2 separate regions of the Homo sapiens genome follow, and region 2 is linked to region 1. Evidence: fine-mapped expression QTL. A gene starts in region 1. The other region holds a variant in brackets. All regions are shown on one strand. Distances are from middle to middle.

What was found. PIP is the estimated chance that this variant, and not a neighbour inherited with it, causes the effect. A credible set is the group of variants that fine-mapping cannot tell apart.
Region 2: its variant is the best candidate, but not a certain one, in a credible set for the expression of CLEC10A in monocytes after LPS (Fairfax 2014, PIP 0.64).

The regions. Positions count from the first base shown.
Region 1 is chr17:7,077,971-7,083,342 of GRCh38, forward strand. It overlaps CLEC10A (C-type lectin domain containing 10A), which reads right to left and starts at 2,281. Exons shown (of 9, transcript NM_001330070.2): 1 at 2,082-2,281; 2 at 776-915; 3 at 27-143. The coding sequence starts at 842.
Region 2 is chr17:7,104,994-7,110,365 of GRCh38, forward strand. ASGR2 (asialoglycoprotein receptor 2) reads right to left here. Exons shown (of 9, transcript NM_001201352.2): 3 at 3,779-3,895; 4 at 3,469-3,564; 5 at 2,843-2,914; 6 at 2,238-2,324; 7 at 2,007-2,158. Among named protein-coding and RNA genes, the nearest start is that of ASGR2, 7.1 kb to the right of the region's middle. The variant G/A (reference allele first, on the strand shown) is at 3,142.

The sequences.
Region 1 (5,372 bases):
TCCCTGTCCACCCCTGTGACCCTCACTTTGGAATCCAACCACACAGATGATGACCAGCAGCAGGAGGCCGAGGCCCAGGGACAGCAGGAGATGGCAGGGCCCAGAGCAGAGACGCTGCAGGAGGGACTGGAGAGGAAGTGGCCCTGCAAGAGGAGAGAGTGTCAGGATGAGGAGGGTCCAGACACCGGAGACGGGAGAAGGAGAGGGCCCAGGGAGCTGTCTAGTGAGGAGGGCTGGGCACAGGGGACTCCAGGGGAGGGTTGGACAAGGAGGATTTTGGGGTGGGGGATGCCCAGGCCTTTGACTTCAGGGACCAGCACAAGTCCTCAGTCACACAGGCCCCTCACACCCCTGGGGACCCACGTGATAGCGATATGAGGGGTCCCATGGTCAGAGCTGGGGGCAGGGGCAGGAGGACACAGGGAGAGCTGGGGGCAGCCAGCCCTTCATGGGCTTATGCTCACCTACCTGCTGGACAATCAGGTTCACAAATGAGTTTCCTTCCAAACCCAACTACTTATCTTTCCCTCCACCAATGCGCAGCTCTCATCCCCACCCCACAGAGCATCAGAAGCTGGGTCCACTGTGATCCTCCCTGTCCCAGTCTTTCTAGAGACCTTGCATCCTCTTCACACTAGGCCCGTCAGAGGCTGGGGCCTGACCTCCTCAGAGTTAGGACCCACCAGTGCGCGTGGTGGAGGTACAGAAATGATAGGAGAAATCCTTCTAAACATATAAAGAGGGCATTTTAGGAGAGTTTCCCCTTTCCTCTTACCATTTTTAAACCCCTGGACTTTCACCTTATTCTCCAAGTACTGGAAGTTTTCATACGTCCTTGTCATGCTTGGGCCAACACGGCTCTGAGGTTGTCACAGCTGAAATGGAGGCAGGGCCGGCGCCCAGTCTGGGGTGGAGCTGGGGAATAGGAGGTTGGGACTAAGTTGGAGCCAAGGGCAGGGCTGACGTTGAGTTGGGAGATGAGGCTCAGGTTGAGAATGAGCCCAGGGTTAAGACGGAAATGAGCCTGGGTTTGCAGTCGAGTTAGAATTGGGGTCGAGTTGAGTTTGGGAGTGAAACTGGAGGGTAACGTTGGAGCTAAACGCATTGCTAGGACTACCCAGTGGGCCAGTTAATCAGGCAGGACTGGAGGTTGTATCTCATGCTAGGATTGGGGTCAGTATGCACGTTGGAGCCATGGATGGAATTGGGGTTAACTTTGGTGGTGAATTTGGAAACAGAATAGAGTCGAGGTTCAATTTTGGCTTTGGGCTGGTGTTAAAATTCAAGTTGATTCTGGGGTTGGGGTTGAAGTAGGAGCTGGGTGGGGGGCGACAGGTGCGGTGGCTCACGCCTATAAATCCCAGCACTTTGGGAGACCGAAGCAGACAGATCACTTTAGGTCAGGAGTTTGAGACCGGCCTGGCCAACATGGTGAAACCCCATCTCTACTAAAAATACAAAAATTAGCTGGGTGTGGTGGTGTGCGCCTGTAATCCCAGCTACTTGGGAGGCTGAGGCAGGAGAATCACTTGAACCCAGGAGGCAGAGGTGGCAGTGAGCCGAGGTTGTGCCGTTGCACTCCAGCCTGGACGACACAGTGAGACTCAGTCTCAAAAAAAAAGAAAATGTAGAAGCTGGGGTTAGTATTGGGATTAGGGCATGGCTGGGCTGAGATGAAGATAAGGCTGGAAATGGGCCACCAATGAGGCTGAGTCTGAGTCTTAGTTTATTTTTATTTTTATTTATTTATTTTTTGAGATGGAATTTCGTTCTTGTCGCCCAGGCTGTTGTGCAACGAGGCCGTCTCGGCTCACTGCAACCTCTGCCTCCTGGGTTCACAAGATTCTCCTGCCTCAGCTCCCGGAGTCTTAGTTTATGACAGGGGATTGTGGCTGCCGTAACCCAATCTAGAATCCAGTGAAGGGAACAGAGTCTCAAATCTCCACGTAGTAATTAAACCCCACACTGCCGCCTTATATTTATTTTCATTTAGTCCCACCCAAGACCCAAAGTCCCCCTCTCCCTGCTTCCTCTGACATCCCCTGTCCCCTGGGTCTCACCGGCACCGGCAGCACCATTACCTGTGGGAGGTCTGGAGGGTGTGATTCCCACGTTGGTTGTGCTGCAAGGACCAGAGGTGGGACGTCACTCAGAGTTGGGAGCGCTGTGTCCTGGAGAGCTGGGGTAGAGGTGACTGGAGTCCTGCTGGTCTTGGGTCTGAAATCCCAGGAGCCCTATCATCTGGGACATCCCATCTCCTCAACTTTAGACAGTAAATGAGAATGAACAGGGATTAGAACACACAGAGACCATGTGTGGGTGGGGAGAGTTGGGTTTGAGGCCAGCTCTGTTCTCCTCCTCCAGGCCATGCCTACTTCCTTTCCTCTTCTCGGAGCTTCCTCATTTTTACCATCTGGGAGCAGGGCTGGATCAGAGGTACAATCTGCTGTTGCTCCTCTACCCTACACTTCCTTTCACTTCCTGCCTCTACATTTCCCAGAATTGTTGGGTCTCCATCATCGCACCTCTGATCCTAGAGAAGCCCAGTCTGTTCTCTTGCTCAATCCTGGCCTGAGTCCCTGGCATCAGCATCCTCTGGGTCCCAGTCATTCGGCTGCTCAGCTGTGGCCTCGCTCGCCTCACTCCACTCGGAAGGAGGGAAGGGGGTGCCAGAGAATAGAACTTCTTGGCCCTAATAGGACGGGAGAAGCCAAGGAAAAGAGCAAATTTTATTGAGTAATCTGTGATAGGATTATGCCAGACATTTACCTTCCACAACCATTCCCCCCAAGCACCTGGGGAGGCATTTTGGATGACGGACTAAAGGCTCAGAGCCCAAGATCACTCACAGCTTGTAAGGAGACAGTTTGGCACCCTGCTCTGGCTCTCAGCACAGGCGCTGTCTTCATGAACAGGATTCCATTTCATCCCATGATCCCTGCTCAACCCCTAAGGGAGCTGCCCTGAATCCACGCGCACATCCCTTTCAGTAGGAAGGAAACTGAGTATCTTACAAGGTGGAGAAGGAGAAGAAATACATTTTAGGTTATATTTTGTATGTACATGGGGTTGTGTTCTGCTATGTGCTTTTTTTTTTTTTTTTTGGAGTTAACAAGCTATCAGGAACATTTCTCCACATCAGTTTATAAAATGTACTTGATCTACCTGCACCTCATTTCATCATAGGCACCGTAATTTATTTATTTAGCATTTCTCTATTGACAGAAATAAATCAGAAATTTAAGTTGTTTCTTTTTCTTTTCTTTTTTATTTTATTTATTTATTTATTTTTTTGAGACAGAGTCTCACTCTGTTGCCCAGGCTGGAGTGCAGTGACACAATCTCGGCTACTGCATCTCCTGGGTTTAAGCGATTCTCCTGCCTCAGCCTCCCGAGTAGCCGAGATTACAGGTCCCGCCACCACACCCAGCTAATTCTTGTATTTTTAGTAGAGAGGGGTTTCACCATATTGGCCAGGCTGGTCTTGACCTCCTGACCTCACATGATCTGCCCGCCTCAGCCTCCCAAAGTGCAGGGATTACAGGCGCGAGCCACCGCACCCGGCCAGGTCGTTGCCAGTTTTGTTTTTATTTGGTATTCGGTATTTTGATTAGTATATGTCGCAGGTTCGGTTTTTGGAAGCCAAGGTTGAGGCTGAATTTGGGGTACAAGCTATTTATTAGGGATTAGCACTTCGAAAAGGAAAGTGGATGAAATGGTGCTGGGCAGAGGGAGAAGCCCAGCACTTTGGAGAGCTTCAACCAAACCAACAGGGAGCTCTGGGTTCAAACAATGCCACCCCCGGGAGCTGTCCAGCATTGGACTGCCACAGGGTCCTGTAGAGCACCAGCTCCTTCGGTCACTGGCAGTCAGCCCTGACATGGGTGTGACCTCAGGAAGCAGCTGTCTGCAGGTTACACTCCCCACAGTGGGTCACCACATCCTTCCTAGAAGGGGGACCTGGGTAGCTCTCTGTGTGTCTACCACAGTCTTGCAGTGTATTCACATATTAATTTGGAGATAATCAACATTTTGACATTGTTGAATCTTCCATGAAAAGAACATGATATTTCTCCATTCACTAACTTTTTTTTTTCAGTCTGGTTCAGTGGGTTTGAAGCTTCTTTTTTTTTTTTTAGTTCTGGGATACATGTGCAGAATGTGCAGGTTTGTTACGTAGGTATACGTGTGCCATGGTGGTTTGCTGCACCTATCAACCCATCACCTAGGTTTTAAGGCCCGCATACATTAGGTATTTGTCCTAATGCTCTCCCTCCCCTTGCCGCCCACCCCCTGACAGACCCTGGTGTGTGATGTTCCCCTCCCTGTATCCATGTGTTCTCATTGTTCAGCTCCCGGTTATGAGTGAGAACATGCGGTGTTTGGTGTTCTGTTCCTGTGTTACTTTGCTGAGAATGATGGTTTCCAGCTTCATCTATGTCCCTGCAAAGGACATGAACTCATTCTTTTTTATGGCTGCATAGTATTCCATGGTGTATATGTGCCACAATTTCCTTATCCAGTCTATCATTGATGGGCATTTGGGTTGGTTCCAAGTCTTTCCTATTGTAAATAGTTCTGCAATAAACATACGTCCAATCACTCTTATACACATTTATTCATCCATTTGAGTACTTATTGAGTCTACGGCATGCCAAGCACTTTCCTTCCCAAGAGGCAGAGTTCAGGAGTTCAAAAGTAAACAGACAAAAAAGTCCTGCCTTCATAGAGCTTACCTTCTAGTGGGTCACCAATAAACAAAATAAATGAGTAAAATATACATAAGCCACATGGCAATAGTGCTTTGCGGAAAAAGAGCAGGGATATGAGATAGGGTTGATTTTTAATGTCCCTCAAGAATAGGGCATGTATTAGTCCATTCTCACATTGCTCTAAATAAATACCTGAGACTCGGTAATTTATCAAGGAAAGGGGTTTAATTGCTTCGTAGTTCTGCAGGCTGTGCAGGAAGCATGGTGCCGGCCTCTGCTCAGTTTCTGGGGAGGCCTCAGGAAACTTATGATCATGGTGGAAGATGAAGGGGGAGCAGGTGCCTCACATGGTAAGAACAGGAGCAAGAGAAAAGACAGGGGATCAGATTTTAAATGACCAGATCTCACGGCTGTGCGCAGTGGCTCACGCCTGTAATCCCAGCACTTTGGATGGCCAAGGCGGGCGGATCATGAGGTCAGGAGATCGAGACCATCCTGGCTAACACAGTGAAACCCTGTCTCTACTAAAAATACAAAAAATTAGCCAGGCGGGGTAGCGGGCACCTGTAGTCCCAGCTACTGGGGAGGCTGAGGCAGGAGAATGGCATGAACCCAGAAGGCGGAGCTTGCAGTGAGCCGAGATCGCGCCACTGCACTCCA
Region 2 (5,372 bases), 27 kb after region 1:
TTTTTTTTTTCAGATACAACACTTAAGGAACCTAGGAAAGGAAAGACTCAGACACATGGGAATAAGAGGTATCCTGGTCTCCTCACCTTTCCTATGGAAGTTATACAAACTTTTAGTTTTCAAAGCCAATAATTTTCAGCCTATTATTTAAAGTTATACAAGTAATCACTGGAATAACTCTAAATAAACTACATAGTTTCCAAAATACCATAAAGAAGAAAACAAAAAGAACACCTCTCACATAGCAATTGTAAGAAAATTAAGAAGCATGTAAAGCAGAAAAAAGAAAGGACTAGGGTTAAACATATCTATTAGAATGTAAATGAGACACTCACCTATTAAAAGAAAAGGTACTTATTAGATTTTTAAACATCAAAAACAAAACCTGCCAGGTGCAGTTTTTGGATTACAGTGGCTCAGACACCTGTAATCCCAATATTTTGGGAGGCCCAGGCGGGCGAATCGCTTGAGGCCAGGGGTTCAAGACCAGCCTGGGCAACATGGCACAACACCATTTCTACTAAAAATGCAAAAAACTACCCAGGTATGGTGGTGTGCACCTGTAGTCCCAGCTACTTGGGAGGCTGAGGTGGGAGAATCCGTTGAGCCCGGGAGGCACAGGTTACAGTGAGCTGAGATCATGCCACTGCACTCCAACCTGGGCGATAGAGCCAGATCTTGTATCAAAAACAAAACAAAACAAAAAACCTATATAGGAGAAATACCTTAAGCTTAGCTGCCCTGTGCTGCCCCTCAGGGAATGGTCCAGGATGAAGCCAAGATTAATTTAAATTAGCATTTTTTTTTTTTTTTGAGTCAGAGTCTCGCACTGTCACCCGGGCTGGAGTATAATGGCGCAGTCTCAGCTCACCACAACCTCTGCCTCCCGGGTTCAAGTGATTCTCCTGCCTCAGCCTCCTGAGTAGCTGGGATTACAGGCACCCGCCACCATGCCCGGCTAATTTTTGTATGTTTAGTACAGATAGGGTTTCACCATTTTGGCCAGGCTGGTCTCGAACTCCTGACTTCATGATCCGCCCACCTCGGCCTCCCAAAGTGCTGGGATTACAGGCGTGAGCCACTGCACCCGGCCTAAATCAGCATTTTTAAGGGCGAGATCCAGGAGTCGATATATTTTTTTTAACTCTTGAAGAGATTGCAATGTACAGTCAAGACTGAGAATCATTAATTTAAAACAGAGATTCAAAAAGGTAAGAAACAAAAGGATGGACAGAGATACAGCAAGCAAATGCAAGTGACAAAAAAATCAAGGACCGTGGTATTTATATATCAGATAAATTCAAGGCAAAAAGCATTAACTGGGACACACGTTGGCTTCATAGTGACGAAAGCACCGTCCACCACGAAGTTGTAGTGGTCATGAGCTTATTGTGTGCCAAATCACAGAGCACTGAGATCTTAGGTTGAACTGCATGAAACTGACATTTTTATAGGTCAAAACTGATGAAATGTTGGCAAGTTCAACCTGATCAGTAAAGCAAAATATGTTCGTACTCACAGTATGCTGTAAAGTACTAACAGAGCCTGATGTAATGCAAACAATACATATATTCTGGCCCCTGTATCATATGGCTTAACTACTGTGGCATTAAAATACTTTGAAGTTCAGCCAGACGCGGTGGTTCACGCCTGTAATCCCACCACTTTGGGAGGCGGAGGTGGGCGGATCATGAGGTCAGGAGTTCCAGACCAGCCTGGCTAAGACGGTGAAACCCCGTCTCTACTAAAAATACAAAAAAATTAGCCGGGCATGGTGGCACGTGCCTGTAATCCCAGCACTTTGGGAGGCCGAGGCAGGAGAATGGCGTGAACCCAGAAGGCGGAGCTTGCAGTGAGCCGAGATCGTGCCACTGCACTCCAGCTTGGGCGACAGAGCGAGACTCCATCTCAAAAAAAAAAAAAAAATGGATAAAATAAGCCTGATCCAGCCTCCCAGAGCAGGCCTTCCAAGGGCTTCCTCCTGCCTGTGGGAAGCGTGGCCTCACCTGCTCCTCCCAGGAGTTGATGACCACCAGGTGTGCGTTCTCCAGCTGGCAGTACTTCTCCGCCTCAGCCCAGGCCTTCCCGGAGTGAGAGAACCAGTAGCAGCTGCCTTGGTGCTCCACCCAGTTGACGGGGCAGCAGGTCCTTTGGGAGCCTGAGGGGACAGGGGGCAGGGAGATGAGATCCAGCCGGAGGGGCAGGCACACTGGGCCTGGAGACGGCCCCACCCCTACCGTTGCTGTGGAGGAGCTCCATCTGGCAGGCCACGAAGCGCAGGTCCACGGGGAAGTGCTTCAGATGGAAGAGCAGGGCATCGTGATCTAGGACAGACAGGCTGAAAGTGCTGCCGGCAGGTGTGGTCCCCACCTGCTAGGCTCCAGCCTGTGGCTGGGGAAGCATATACACCCACAGACACGTACACCATGCATAGACCACACCACACACCATACCACACACACACCACAGACATGTACACCACACATAGACCACACCACACACAGATCCATCACACACACACAAACACACCAAGAGACACACCACACACATCACATGCGTACACACACATATACCATACCGCACACACACAGACTCATCTCACACACACCACCACACATGCATACACACACAACACACACATATACACCACACTACACACCACACACAGATCCATGACATATCACACCACACATACGGAGAGAGACACAGATACACATGCTTGCAGGCACACACACGCACGCACGCACACGTGCACACTACACACACCGCACACGTACACACTACACACACCGCACACGTACACATGCACGCACATGCGCACACACCCCGGAGGCTCTCTGACCTGCTTTCAGGTCCTGCTGCTGTTTCTCCAGCTTGGCTCCTAGGGATGTGATCTTGTCACCCACGCTGCCTCCTGGAAGCGGAAAGCCAGCTGTTTCCCCGCTGAGCCTCCCTCCGTCCTCATGCTGCTGGGGGACCGGGGGCCAGCGCCTCGTCCTGGGCGATGCAGGCGTCCACCTCCTGGCTTCCTGGACCACACCCAGGCTCCCTGCACTGCCACAGTGGCTCAGGCCACTCTCCTGCTTCAGTCCCTTCAATGGGTCCCCATTTTCTCAAAATAAAGCCTCGCTCTGTCAGCAC[G/A]GCTCACCTGCGTGGCCGGGCCCCTCCCCACCTCTCTCTGGCCACCCCTTACCTGCCTGCCCCTCCGATGGGCCTGCCACACTCGATTTGCTCACAGGCCCAAGACATGGTGCCTTCCTCACCTCCGGGTGTCGCAGATCCAACCTCTCCACCTGGCACTAACCTCGTCCGTCCCCACCTGCCTCCCTCCTATACATCCCCCAGGGCCCCTGGACGCCTTGCCCAGCCTGCACCCCCACGGCACCCCACACAGCCCTGTTGCAGACTCGGCACTGAGCCCAGCAAACCTGTGCGGATAAATGAGAACCCAGCCGTCCAGCCCCTCACCGTGGGTGCTGATTGCCTGGACCTCCGTCAGGGTGCTCGAGGAGAAGTTGCTGAAAGCTTCCTTCAGGCTCCGCAGCTCGGCTTGCAGCTGTGCACCTTGTCAGGTGGTAGTGGGGGCAGGATGAGGCAGAGGGGCCGTGTCCCCATCACTGTCCATGTGACTGGCCCCTCAATGTCCCCGCATTTGCCCCAGCTTGTGCTCCACCCCGCCTCCATCCCTTCCCCTCCCATCGCCCCGATCGCTGCCCGCCACTGCCCATGTCTCTTTCCCTACCCCTTGCCCATCCCTGCTGGCCCCCGTGACCCTCACTTTGGGACCCAGTCACACAGATGACCACCAGCAGCAGGATGTTGAAGCTCAGGGCAAGCAGACTGAAGCAGACCATGGAGCAGAGACGCTGTGCCAGGGGCTGGGCAGGAGGTGGCCCTGTGGGAGAGGGGCATCAGGAGCCGGCAGCCTGGGTGTGGGGAGCCGGAGGGTAAAGACAGGGCACCGAAGCCTGAGGAGGCATAACCTGGGCGGGGGGATTGGTTGGGGCCATGGGGGGGGGTCATCATAGGCTTTGACCCCAGCATTTGAGCATTACACACACACTCTTACACACTCGCACCCATATTACCATGTATAAATATACACACGCAGCTAATCTGGTGCACACACACCCATGCACACGACTCAGGATATTCACATCAGCTGTGTGCAAAGCCCGGATCCTGGAGCTGGGGGACTGGGAGACGCACAGGGGGCGGGGGGGCAGACCCGGCCCTGCCTAGGCACACATCCTGAGAAGGGGGATCTGTGAATGGTTTTCCTCCCATCCAGCCAGTGGCAGAGGCCTCCAGATCACCTCGGGCCTTAGTCTCAGCTCTTCTAAGGCTCCTGTCCCCTCAGATTGGAGACTCCAGAAGCTGGGCCCTGTGTTCTTCCTAAAATCCATACTGGAACAGTCCCTCCCCTGCCAAAATTCCATTGAGATCCTTAAATCTGGGTCATTCCACCATAGCCCACTCTCCAAGCACAACCCTCCAGGTCCCACCTGTTGTCCTCATCCCCCACCACGCAAGGCCTCCTCCCCAGCGCCCTTTGCCCTCGCTTCCCTAGAAACCTCGTTCCACACTAAATTTGCTCCCCTCAGCCCGAGGTCATCTCACAGGTACCTCTCCTGCCCCTTGATCCATCTGCACCCTGACAGCACTGACACACACATTCACATGCCCTCACAAACTCACACACACTCACACACTCACACATTGCTCACTTCACTCAAAAACACACATTTGCACACACTCATGACCACGCTCTGCTGTACCCACTCTCACATGTGCATATGCATGCTAATGCACACATTCATACTCCCTCCCACACACACACACCTGACACACCCACACACGTACACTCACACACCCACGTCTTCCTGCACACAGAGCTGGGCTCCCTCTCTGCTGCCTCCAGACCCAGAGCAGCTCCAGTTGTCCCAGCCCTGAGCTCCTCTCTTTGCAGCATCCACCTGCAAACAGAACACCTTCTAGGCCTTGGACCCTGACTCTGTGGACTTCCTTGTCTTCTCATTCCTATCACCCCCCGACCCAGCAGGACCACATCCTGGGGAGGCTCAGTCAGGGGCCCAGAATCTTCCTCCCCAGGTCACTTCCTGCCACTGTCCTGAGTCAGACACTGCCCCTGTAAGTGACTGTCCATAACTCTTCATCTTTTTCACACCAGTGACTTCCACCTTCCCCACTGCAGCCACACTCAGGACCCCATTTGACCCAGGGAGGCCTCTGACACCTCCACTGCCCACTCCCGCTCTGAGCACAGCCCCACCCTCCCTCTCACTGCCCCCACCCCTTCCTCCAAGGCCTTTGCATTCCTCTCCATCCAGAAGCGCTCCATGACCACGGTG